Linked DNA regions of Homo sapiens: all the other regions are linked to region 3. Evidence: fine-mapped expression QTL. A gene starts in region 3. Each other region holds a variant in brackets. All regions are shown on one strand. Distances are between the middles of the regions. Region 1 has its middle 23 kb from the start of LINC03068. Region 2 overlaps LRRC27 (leucine rich repeat containing 27). Region 3 holds the start of PWWP2B (PWWP domain containing 2B). Region 4 overlaps LINC03068 (long intergenic non-protein coding RNA 3068).

The links.
Region 1: its variant is fine-mapped to the expression of PWWP2B in blood mononuclear cells (TOPMed, PIP 0.96).
Region 2: its variant is fine-mapped to the expression of PWWP2B in whole blood (TOPMed, PIP above 0.99). The same link has a PIP of 0.9 or more in lung, prostate, skeletal muscle and transverse colon.
Region 4: its variant is fine-mapped to the expression of PWWP2B in whole blood (INTERVAL, PIP 0.92).

Annotation. Positions count from the first base shown.
Region 1 is chr10:132,420,299-132,422,981 of GRCh38, reverse strand. No RefSeq gene overlaps it. Among named protein-coding and RNA genes, the nearest start is that of LINC03068, 23 kb to the left of the region's middle. RefSeq lists an enhancer at 140-1,043 and silencers at 1,501-1,560, 1,591-1,650, 1,681-1,730. The variant G/A (reference allele first, on the strand shown) is at 1,240.
Region 2 is chr10:132,363,584-132,366,266 of GRCh38, reverse strand. It overlaps LRRC27 (leucine rich repeat containing 27), which reads right to left. Exons shown (of 11, transcript NM_030626.3): 10 at 717-843. Among named protein-coding and RNA genes, the nearest start is that of PWWP2B, 32 kb to the left of the region's middle. The variant C/T (reference allele first, on the strand shown) is at 1,143.
Region 3 is chr10:132,395,566-132,398,248 of GRCh38, reverse strand. It overlaps PWWP2B (PWWP domain containing 2B), which reads right to left and starts at 1,049. Exons shown (of 3, transcript NM_138499.4): 1 at 898-1,049. The coding sequence starts at 1,022. LOC124902526 (a long non-coding RNA gene) reads left to right here and starts at 1,693. Exons shown (of 2, transcript XR_007062342.1): 1 at 1,693-2,683. RefSeq lists enhancers at 1-514, 2,085-2,607, 2,608-2,683 and silencers at 777-916, 927-1,036, 1,447-1,876, 1,897-2,276.
Region 4 is chr10:132,434,204-132,436,886 of GRCh38, reverse strand. LINC03068 (long intergenic non-protein coding RNA 3068) reads left to right here. Exons shown (of 3, transcript NR_184030.1): 3 at 2,196-2,683. Among named protein-coding and RNA genes, the nearest start is that of LINC03068, 9.4 kb to the left of the region's middle. The variant G/TTGGGATGTG (reference allele first, on the strand shown) is at 1,162.

The DNA.
Region 1 (2,683 bases), 25 kb before region 3:
GGCCCGTGGGGATGTTGCCCATCTATAAACACGCTGAAAGCCATGGACGTGTCCACTGGAAGGGGAGGGATCATATGATATGTGAGCTACGTCTCAAAGAAAGCTGTTTTTTCAAAAAGACTTGTTTCCCGTCTCCCCCGAGGGCTTCCTGGACTCCTGTTGCTTGTCTCTGTCACGAATCCTCACCCCAAAATCATAGGATGAACACCCCAAAGAAATCATGAGAACTCTTCTCTTTGTAGCAAACCACCAAAGGAGAAATTCATGCTTGAAACTGTATCCAAACGGATCAGGGGCCCAAGGGCTGGATGATCTTCACCGCAGCTGGTCTCTGAAAACATGCCTTGTGACCTGCAGTGAGGAGTCCGCATCTGTCTGTGCCACCTGCTGAGACTGTCCTCTCTCGGGCTCCCATGGGGGCTGCGGGCTGGAGCGGGGCCAGGAGGGAGGGGGATGGACGGCTGGGAGGAGGACAGACACCCACACCTCGGTGACAGGTGACAGGCGTTGGCTTGGGCAGAGCCTCGGTGACCTGCCTAGGTTTTCTTCCCCAAAGCAGATCCCAGCTGCGTCTGCACCCAGCAGGCCCCAGAGCCTTCTCCTCCGTGGGGGGGTGGGGGTAAGTCCCCTCCTGCTGGGCTGCCAGGCCTCAGGCAGCCTCGACGCAGCTCTGCACCCAGCTCCCGGCTCCCACAGAGAGCCCTGCAGCTACAGCCGGGGCGGCAGCTTCCAGTGGGCTTCCTGGACCCCTGTCTCCCAGCCACGCCGACCGCAGCCACTATGTGGCTCCTTACAGTCCTCCCCCGGGACCCCTCAGCCCCCACTGGCCTCCGTCTCCCCATCCTGGTGCCCCTCTGCTCTCTGTGGGTCTCCATGGGTCACCCCACTGCCCCGTTCATCTCTCCGTCCTGGCGCCCTCTGCCCTCCGAGGGTCACCCCCGCCGCCCTCTCATCTCTCAGGTCTTGTCCCTGCCTGGCAGCGGGTTGAGCACTGGGCCCACTCCTGGGCCTCCCAGCTCCCTTGGGACCATCTCTCTCACCTCTCCAGCCCCTCCAGCTGTGGACACTGACCCCTGCCTGGCTATGGGGCTCTAGGGCAAGCCCCTCCGGCTCCAGGCCTTCAGCCCCCTCCCCCCAGCCACACCCAGGAAGGAAGGAAGCCCCCACTGCTCTGCCCCTTGGAGGGTCAGCGACGCCTGCCCGCACAGGGAAGCTCTCCTGCCTCCCTTCGTGGTTGGG[G/A]AACTGGCTGCCCTGGGTGAGGCCCTCAGGCCTCACCCGCCTCTCTCTGCGGAGAAAAGGCCCGTGGTAGCAGCAGGCGGGGCTGGGGCTAAAAATAACTCTGCTGGGGCAGAGGCTGGCTGGTGAGGCCGCCTCTGTAGGGTGGGGGCGGGAAGGGAGACCGGCCCTGGGACAGCCTCAGCTGGAGCCCAGGGGCGGTGGCCCCAAAGGCCAAGCAGGAGGCCCACTGACCTGACCTCCCCCCGCAGAGAAGCTGGGCAGGGAGCAGGAAGTCCATCTGGGGTCAGGGCGGTGGGGCCCCCCCAGCTGCAGCCCCCTACTTCCAGCCGGGTATTGATCGGCTTGAAGCTCCTTGGGGCACAAAGGAGCTTAACCCTCCTGAGCAGATGACGGCCACGCTCAGGCCAGGGGCAGGGCCCCATCTGCGTCGGCCTCTCCGGAGTGCACCCTTCCCATGGCTGGGGGTGGGGCTGGGGCCGGGGCCGCAGGGTGCAGGGAGCCCAGCGGGAGAGCCCAGCCCTGCCGCGGCTCCTCCCTCAGTGTCCACGGGGAGATGCCCCTGGCCACAGGCAGCCGTTGGCACCTCAGACCTGGGGCAGGAAGGGGAGGGAGCCCCCGGCCACAGGAAGCCACGGAAGGGTGAGCTGGGCACAGAGTTCCAGGGTGACACAAGGCCAGGTCTGCAGAGCAAACATCTGTTAATGCCCAGAAAACTCACCCGGGAAGAAATACGCAAAAGGCCCACAGGGTGTGAGACTGCGGGAGATTCTAATTTTCTTTTTTTTTTTTGCTTTTCTTTATTTTGCTAATTTTTTCCCCCCACCAACAGGGGTTATTTTATAATCAAAGAAACAGAAAACCCTCGCAGAAAAGGGAAGTGCTGGCTGGGGTCCTGGCCACGGTGCCGTCCAGGCAGGATTTGGAAGGGTCCTGGGCTTTGGAGTCCAGGAACCAGCTGTGGCCCCCCGGGTCTCAGCCTCCCCAGCTGTAATGCAAAGTATGCACCCCCAGTGAGGACTCCTCACCTGCTCTTGCCCCTCCCCAGCCATCCCACCACCACCCAGCAGGGCCTAGGCTGCGGGGCTTGCACTGTGAGAAGCCCAGGCAAGGAGGTGACGCAGAGGCCCTGGCCCAGCCCACACAGCCAGGCCACAGAGCTGGAGCCCAGGGCGACCTAGTCTCTGTCCCCAGAAGGCAGACCAGGACTCCAGCCCCAGGAGCCCCACACAGGCCTTGACTCCCTCTCCTGGACCACGCCAGGGTCCCCCTAGATGGCGGGCAGGGGGTTGTGGGCAGGGCCTCCGGGAGATGGGACCAGCAGAAATGGAGCCACCTGGGGGAGGATCTGCAGCAAGAGGAGGAAGATGAAGAACAAGAGGAAGAGGAAGAAGAGAAAGAAGGCTGGAGAGCAGCACCCCAGGCCACGCCACCCACTGCGTCCAGC
Region 2 (2,683 bases), 32 kb after region 3:
CGGTGGCCTCAGCCAGACCCCTCTCTGCAGTGACGCCCCTCATGGCCCAGCCCTGGGCCCACAGCCTGGATCAGCTGGGTGCAAAACCTCAAGCAAGGACCCCACAGACATGTGGAGAGGACTGGTTCCCAGTCCCTGTCAGCAGGCTGCCACTCCTGCCATCAGATTCCCAGTGCTGAGATGCCAAGGCCCGCCATGTGGCCTGGCACATTTGAGGGCTCAGCCCCTCGGCTGAAATGTTTTCCTTCTCATGTGACCAACTGTAATTCTGGGAATTTCTACACCTCATAAGACACATTCCACACAGTCCCACGGTTTTAGAGAGCGCATGCTCTGAAGAGGCACAGTGAGTTCTCTTTATTTTTAATAAAACAATGTTTTAGGCTGTGCACAGTGGCCCAGCAATTTGGGAGGCCAAGGCAGGTGGATCACTTGAGGCCAGGAGTTCGAGACAAGGCTGGCCAACATGGCAAAACCCTATCTCTATTAAAAATACAAAAATTAGCCGGGCATGGTGGTGTACACTTGTCCCAGCTACTCGGGAGGCTGAGGCAGGAGAATCGCTTGAACCTGGGAGGTGGAGGCTGCAGGGAGCCGAGATTGTGCCACCGCACTCCAGCCTGGGTGACAGAACAAGACTCTGTCTCAAAAAAACAAAAACAAAACAAAACAAAAAACACCCCACACTTTTTTAAACAGAACCAAGAAATCCTTACAATTTCCAGATCCTCGGCAGCCTTCCTCATCTCCTCCAGTGGGGCCTGGCCATGGAATCTTCTTTGCTCACGCATTTGGAGGACGTGCTGTTTTATCTTCTCTTCTAAATTTCTCTCCTGCAGGGCACTGAGAAACAAAGGGCAAAGAGGGAAATGACTTGACACATTTACTCTCATCCTAGCAACTCCCGCCATAACCAGGGAGAAAGCATGTGCCTTTCTTCCCAGACCAAACAGCGGTCCTGAGGCTCCCGCACAGCTGTGCCAGTTACTGTGGCGCTGCCCTGGGCCTCCCCGGCACCCACTCTCCTCCAGACTCACGCCGGGGGGCCTGGGCTGCCTCTCCCATCCCTTCTTCAGTAGTTCAGAAGCTGCCAGAACACACACTATTCTTATTTAAAAACCTCAAATTGATTTAAGATATGA[C/T]ACATTTAGGACACTGCACACTGCACCACATGAAGGGAAAAGCAGGTTTCTGTTCCCACATGGAATACACGGTTTTCCTAAATCCTTAAACAGACAAACAGAAAAGTGTATTCAATTATGATTTTAAACATATTTTCTGTTAGCACTGGGGCTCAGGGGTTTGGGGTTCCTTTAATTTTAAAGACAATGACTCAGGGTGGTAGAAAGAGCTGGGGATCTGCTGCAGGTGAGCTGTGGGGTGGCGGGGTCCACTCCAGTCTGCGTGAGTGTGGGGCCCCAGGGTGTGGGCGTGGAGGTAGATGTAAGGGTGGGTGTAAGTGTGGGTGGGTGTGAGTGTGGGCGTGGAGGTAGATGTAAGCATGAGTGTAAGTGTGGGCGTGGAGGTAGATGTAAGTGTGGACGCGGACTGCATGAGTGTGGGGCCCCACGGTGTGGACGTGGGTGTAAGCGTGGGTGTGCAGGTAGATGTAAGTGTGGGTGGGTGTTAAGTGTGGGCGTGGAGGTAGATGTAAGCGTGGACGCGGACTGCCTGAGTGTGGGGCCCCAGGGTGTGGACGTGGGTGTAAGTGTGGGTGTGGAGGTAGATTTAAGTGTGGGTGTAAGTGCGAGTGTGGAGGTAGATGTAAGGGTGGGTGTAAGTGTGGGTGGGTGTAAGTGTGGGTGGGTGTGAGTGTGGGTGTGGAGGTAGATGTAAGCGTGGGTGTAAGCGCGGGTGTGGAGGTAGATGTAAGGGTGGGTGTAAGTGTGGGTGGGTGTAAGCGCGGGTGTGGAGGTAGATTAAGTGTGGGTGTGGTCATGGGTGTGGTGTGGGTGTTGGTGCGGGCGTGGGTGCATGCGCCACTGTGAATACAATGGCACACAGTCTCACTCAGCCTCTCCGAAGACCCTCTTACTCCCAGCAGCAGGGTTTGTGCCGGTTTTGCTTGCTTTTCAGAGTAACTATGGAAAAGAAAGCATGATGTCCTCTGGAGTTCTACAGAACAGAGCCCTCAGGTCAGGGCATGCCCTGTGTCAGCGCCTCAGACTCCAGCTTTTACTGTGCCCAGGGTGATGGGGGGTTAGCGGGCCACTGTGGTCTGCTGTGGGCTTTTTAAAGGCCAAATATGGCAGGTAAACTCCCTGGAGGATGTAAGAGAACATTCAAATGTTTGAGACGAAATGGTTTTAGTCTAAGCCATTTTCACGAGGTTGGGGAGTTAATACAACCTAGTTGGCCTTCGAGATTTTCCCTAAACACTGTCAGCCTCCAGGAGGAACAAATTCTGCAGGAACAGAACATGCCCTTTGTCACCCACATCTCATCCCACCTCACCCTTCCTCCAGGTTTCTTACATCGCAGCCGGGATCCAGGGTACGTTAAACTGAGTGGGGAGCCCCCTGGCAGACGTACGCTGAGCAGCAGGGCCGGGGCCAGGCCCTGGGCCTTCCAAGCTCAGGCCCCACGGTCTCTTCTGCTCTGGCCTCTGAGTGCAGTGAGGCGCTTTCAGTGAGAGCCACAGCGAGCCTGGTGCAGGCCAGGAAAGCACGGGGGCACCGGAGAG
Region 3 (2,683 bases):
GAACACGGTCCTCTCTGCTAATTCATGTCACCAGGCAAAAATCTGGGCTCCACGGATGGAAAAAGTTGGGCCTTTACAAGAGGAGCCTTTCCCTGCTCCCAGTTTCAAAAGAAAGCCCTGCAGGAGCGCAGCGAGGCCACAGCCTGATTCATGCCTAATCATTGATCTGGCAGCGACAGCTCCCTGCCATGTGACGCGGTGTCCAGGAGGCTCATCTGCACCGCATGGGTCCCTGCAGCCCGTGCACAGGTGCCTCTCAGGAGGAACCGCCCCGCCCTGCCCTGCGCCCCCCACCCAGGAAGCCAGGGCTCCCGGGGGATGTGCCCACGGCTCCCACAGCTTGTACCTCTTCACGCCCCCATGACTCAGGGCTCCCTGGCCTGAAACTGTTCTTAAATCGCACAGCTGGGCGCAACTGCTCTCCCCGAATCCAAACCTCAGCCGCGGAGTCACTCCCAGCAGCCAGGGGCCCGTGGCCTTCGACAGGGCACCCCCACCTGTGAGGAACTGCCAGGGCAAGGCCACGGCGCATCTGACCCTCCCCTGCTTTAACGACAATTCTGCCAACAGTCGAATTCAACAGTGGCTCTGAACAAAGAAAAGTGCATTAATTATGGCAGATGTGTGGAGTTCCGGGACCCCGGCCCCGCGCCCCCCGCCCCGGCCCGCCCCGGCCCGGCGCCCGCCCCGAAAAGTCGCGACGACTTTGAGAACCACTTTTGCCCCCCCGAGTGGCGGCCGCGCTCGCGCGCCCCGAAACTCAGGCTCGGCAGAAACCGAAAGCGGGCGCCGGGGCCACGCCACCCCCAACCCGGAGGCGGGTCCCGGGTCTCCGGGCGGCGGAGGCGGGTGTCGCGTGGGGACCCCGGGGGTGTCCCGGCCCGCGCCCCCGCTCACTTTTTCGTGCAGTCCAGCAGGATCCCCGCGAAGCTCCGCTCGCCGCAGCTCACCGTGACCACCAGCGCGCCGTTGACGACCTGCTCCACCCGCACCGGCAGCCGGCAGCCGGCGCGCGGCTCCATGCTCCCGCCGCGTCCCAGGCCGCCCCCGCCCCGCCGCCGCCGCCGCCGCCGCCGCCGCCGCCGGGTCAGCCCCGCGCGTGACGCCGCCCCGCGGCCGCCTGACGTCACAAAGCTCCGCTGGGGCGGCCGCCACAGCCGAGCCGAGCCGGGCCGGGGGCGCGCGGCCGCGGGCTCCGCTCCCGGGGACCCCGCCCGCCGCCGCCGCGTCCCGGGAGAAGCCGCGCCCGCCCGCAGAGGTCGGCCGGACGCGCGGTGCGGACCCCCGGGCTGGAGAGGGGGCTGCGCCCGGGCTCGCGGCCCACGCTGGCCGGGAGTGTCCCCTGGCTCGGGAGGACCCGAGAGCCACGAGCCCGGGGGCGGCGGGGGGGACACCCGCCGCGGCCGGAGCCCCGGGACCCCATCCCCCCGCTCCCCTGCCTGGGGCCGGTCCCGGGCCCCCCTCCCCCTCCGGGCCCAGCCCTGCGCCCTCCCTCCCTCCCCGGTGGCCCGGATCCTCCCGCCTGGGGTCGGCCGCCCGCGTGTCCCGGCAGCGCCCCGCGCTGGGCTCTGGTGGCCCCGGGCACTGCGGCGAGGAAGTCCCGGGCGGCGCGCGCAGGAAGCCGGGGCAGGCGGAGGGGACGCGGGGCGCCCGGGGGCAGCGGCCTAGTGTCGCCCTCGCCGCGTGGGGGGCGGGACACTGGGTCGCCCCACTGGGCTCGGCGCCTCTCGGGGCGACAAGCGGGCGCGCGCCCGGCTCAGGGCCACCCTGCGCGCCTGGGGGTGGCCGGCACCGGGGCCCGGGGGGTTAACTCCCTCCGGAGGTCTCGGGCGTGTCTCTTCGGGTTGCCGGGCCCAGGGGCCAGGCGCGCCTCCGCCAGTTTACAAAGGAAACAGCCTCCTTCCCCCGCGGCAGGGGCTCCCCGACCCGCGGGCGAGGAGTGGGAGGTGACGGCGCCGGACCCCCTTCCCCCAGGCGCCCGGCTCCCGCGCCTTCAGGCGTCAAAGCCCCCGACTTCCCCGAGCACCAGCACGTCCGCACCCGGCTCAGAACGCAGGGGCCCGGCCTGCTGCGGTGACCTTGGCCCCGGGCCGGGCTTCTGAGCCGGACTTGCAGCGCCTGACGAGGCCTGGAGGCGGGGCGGGGGACCGCGTAGTTGTCCTGGCGACCCAGCGCCGCCGGGCAGGGCTCCTCCCAGCCTGGGAATTGAGGACCACCGCCCCTGGTGCCACTGGGGACCGTCGGGTCGCTGGCGCCTGTCGACCTCGCCCTCCGGCGGCCGCGCGGCAGTGGGAGCCTCAGAGAGGAGCCAGGGCGGAGTGAGGGAGCCCGCGGGGCCTGGGACACCTGACCGTCCGGCTAGAACAGGGGTAGGGACCGAGGCCGAATGAGCCAGAGTTCTGGCCGGGGACAGTCCCAGAGGAGGCCTGGAAGCCCAGTGAGTGTCTGTCCTCCTCTGTGTGGCCTGGGGCTCCCGCCAACACTAAGCCCTTCCTGGGGCCTCAGGCACCTCAAGGCGCCCCGTTCTCCAGGGTCAGCCAGCCCCTGCCCACTGGTTGCCAGGCTTGCAGTGGAGCCTGCCTGCTGTCCTGCCCACAGGCCTCTGCAGCTGCCCCCTCCAGGGGTGGGGCTGACTTTGGAGGAAAAATGCCAGGCAGCAGGGACCCCCTCGCCACCCTGCTCC
Region 4 (2,683 bases), 39 kb before region 3:
GGTGCTGGGAGCCCCTCACAGTCAGGGGAGCCAGGGCAGGCGGGCCTGGGTCAGGGGTGTAGACAAGGCTGGGCTGGAGCCACCCAGGGCACAGAGCTGCCCCTCCCCACCGGGCTGGGTGCCCCTCCCTAGGGCGGCCCAGGTTAGCAAATTCAAAAGATCAAAGTTAGAACAACAAATCCATTTTCAGCATACGTGTGCTCCATGCAAATTTGGGACAGACGTATACTAAGCAATGATACATTGCTGATCTGAATTCATCTTAGCTGGGGATCCCGAGTTTTATCTGGCAGCCTGCCTCCCTGCTCCCCACCACCTTGGCTCCCACCAGCTAGGAGCCTTGTAATCTCTGGATGCCAAACTTCAGCCAATGGGCCACATCCAGTGGAGAAGGGACCTGGGGGCACCCAGTCAATGGGCCACATCCAGTGGAGAAGGGACCTGTGGGCACCCAGTCAATGGGCCACATCCAGTGGAGAAGGGGCCTGGGGGCACGCAGCCAATGGGCCACATCCAGTGAAGGGGCCTGGGGGCACGCAGCCAATGGGCCACATCCAGTGGAGAAGGGGCCTGGGGGCACTCAGCCAATGGGCCACATCAAGTGGAGAAGGGGCCTGGGGGCACTCAGCCAATGGGCCACATCCAGTGGAGAAGGAGCCTGGGGGCACCCAGTCAATGGGCCACATCCAGTGGAGAAGGCGCCTGGGGGCACTCAGCCAATGGGCCACATCCAGTGGAGAAGGGGCCTGGGGGCACCCAGTCAATGGGCCACATCCAGTGGAGAAGGGGCCTGAGGGCACCCAGCCAATGGGCCACATCCAGTGGAGAAGGTGCCTGGAGGCACCCAGTCAATGGGCCACATCCAGTGGAGAAGGGGCCTGAGGGCACCCAGCCAATGGGCCACATCCAGTGGAGAAGGGACCTTGGGGCACCCAGTCAATGGGCCCCATCCAGTGGAGAAGGGGCCTGAGGGCACCCAGCCAATGGGCCACATCCAGTGGAGAAGGCACCTGGGGGCACCCAGCCAATGGGCCACATCCAGTGGAGAAGGGGCCTGAGGGCACGCAGGGAGGCTGTGGCAGTGGGCAGAGGGGCGTAGCGGTGTCTGGGGTAGGCAGGATTCTCCAGGGAAACAGAACCATTGGGATGTGTGTACAAACA[G/TTGGGATGTG]TGTACATATAGGGTATATACAGTGTACATAGAGGTCATATACCATGTACATATTGGGTATCTACAATGTACATATAGCGTATATACCATGTACATCATATAGGGTATATACTATGTACATGTAGAGTATATACAGTGTACGTGTAGGACATATACCACATACATATAGGGCATATGCTGTGTACATATAGGGTATATCCCGTGTACATAGAGGTCATATACCATGTACATATTGGGTATCTACAATGTACATATAGGGTATATACCATGTACATCATATAGGGTATATACTATGTACATGTAGAGTATATACAGTGTACGTGTAGGACATATAGCACATACATATAGGGCATATGCTGTGTACATATAGGGTATATCCCGTGTACATATAGGCCATATGCCATGTGCATATAGGACATATACCGTGGACATATAGGGCATATACCATGTACATATAGGGTATATATTGATATTGTGTACATATATAGAATATTCATAGTGTGAGTGTGCATATAGTACACACATATACAGCATATATACAGTGTGTGCATATAGAGTATATATAGTGTGTGTGTGTAAAGTTATAGTGTGTGTATATAGTGTATGCATATGGACTATACTGTGTGTGTATAGTGTATATGTAGCATGCATACAGAGTATATATAGTGTATGTACACATATAATGTGTATATATTATAGAGATAGCATATGTATACATAGTGTGCATATAGTGTACATTAATATAGAGTATGCATATATTTGTGTAATATAGTGTGCATATAGATATATACAGTGTATGTATAGTGTATATATAGTATACATATATAGAGATTATATACAGTGTGCATAGTGTATATGGTCTGTGCATATTGCATACCTATATATTCTATACACAGTGTATGTATGTGTATACATAGTGTGTATATGTAGTATACATGTAGTGTGTGTATATATATATAAAATGTAAATATATACATAGGGAGAGCGTGCAAGAGAGATTTATTTTAAAGAATTGGCTTATGTGTTTGTGGCAGCTGCTCATCTGACACCTGAGGGCCGCTGGAGACCCAGGGACACTCCTGCTGCGGCTCATGTTTGGAAGCTGTCCGGAGGCGGGACTTCCTCTTCCTCCAGGGGCCGCCGTCCGGAGGCGGGACTTCCTCTTCCTCGGGGACAACTGTCTTTTTCTCTTAAGGCCTTGGACTGCCTGGATGAGGCTATAATATGGTCAGTACTCTGCTCTACCCAAAGTCTCCTGATTGAAATATTAACCTCATCCAAGAAACACCCTCACAGCGACGTCTACACTGGTGTTTGACCAAATAGCTGGGGACCGTGGCCTGGTCGAGCTGACACAAAAGTAACCATCACAGCTGCTGCTATGGTCTGAATGTTGATGTCACCCCCAGATTCATTTGTTAGAACTTAAGCCCCAAGGCGATGGCATCACTGGTGGGCTTTGGGAGATGAGGAGGATATGAATGGGACCAGTAGCCTCATAAGAGTTTTGAGGGTCCTGGTT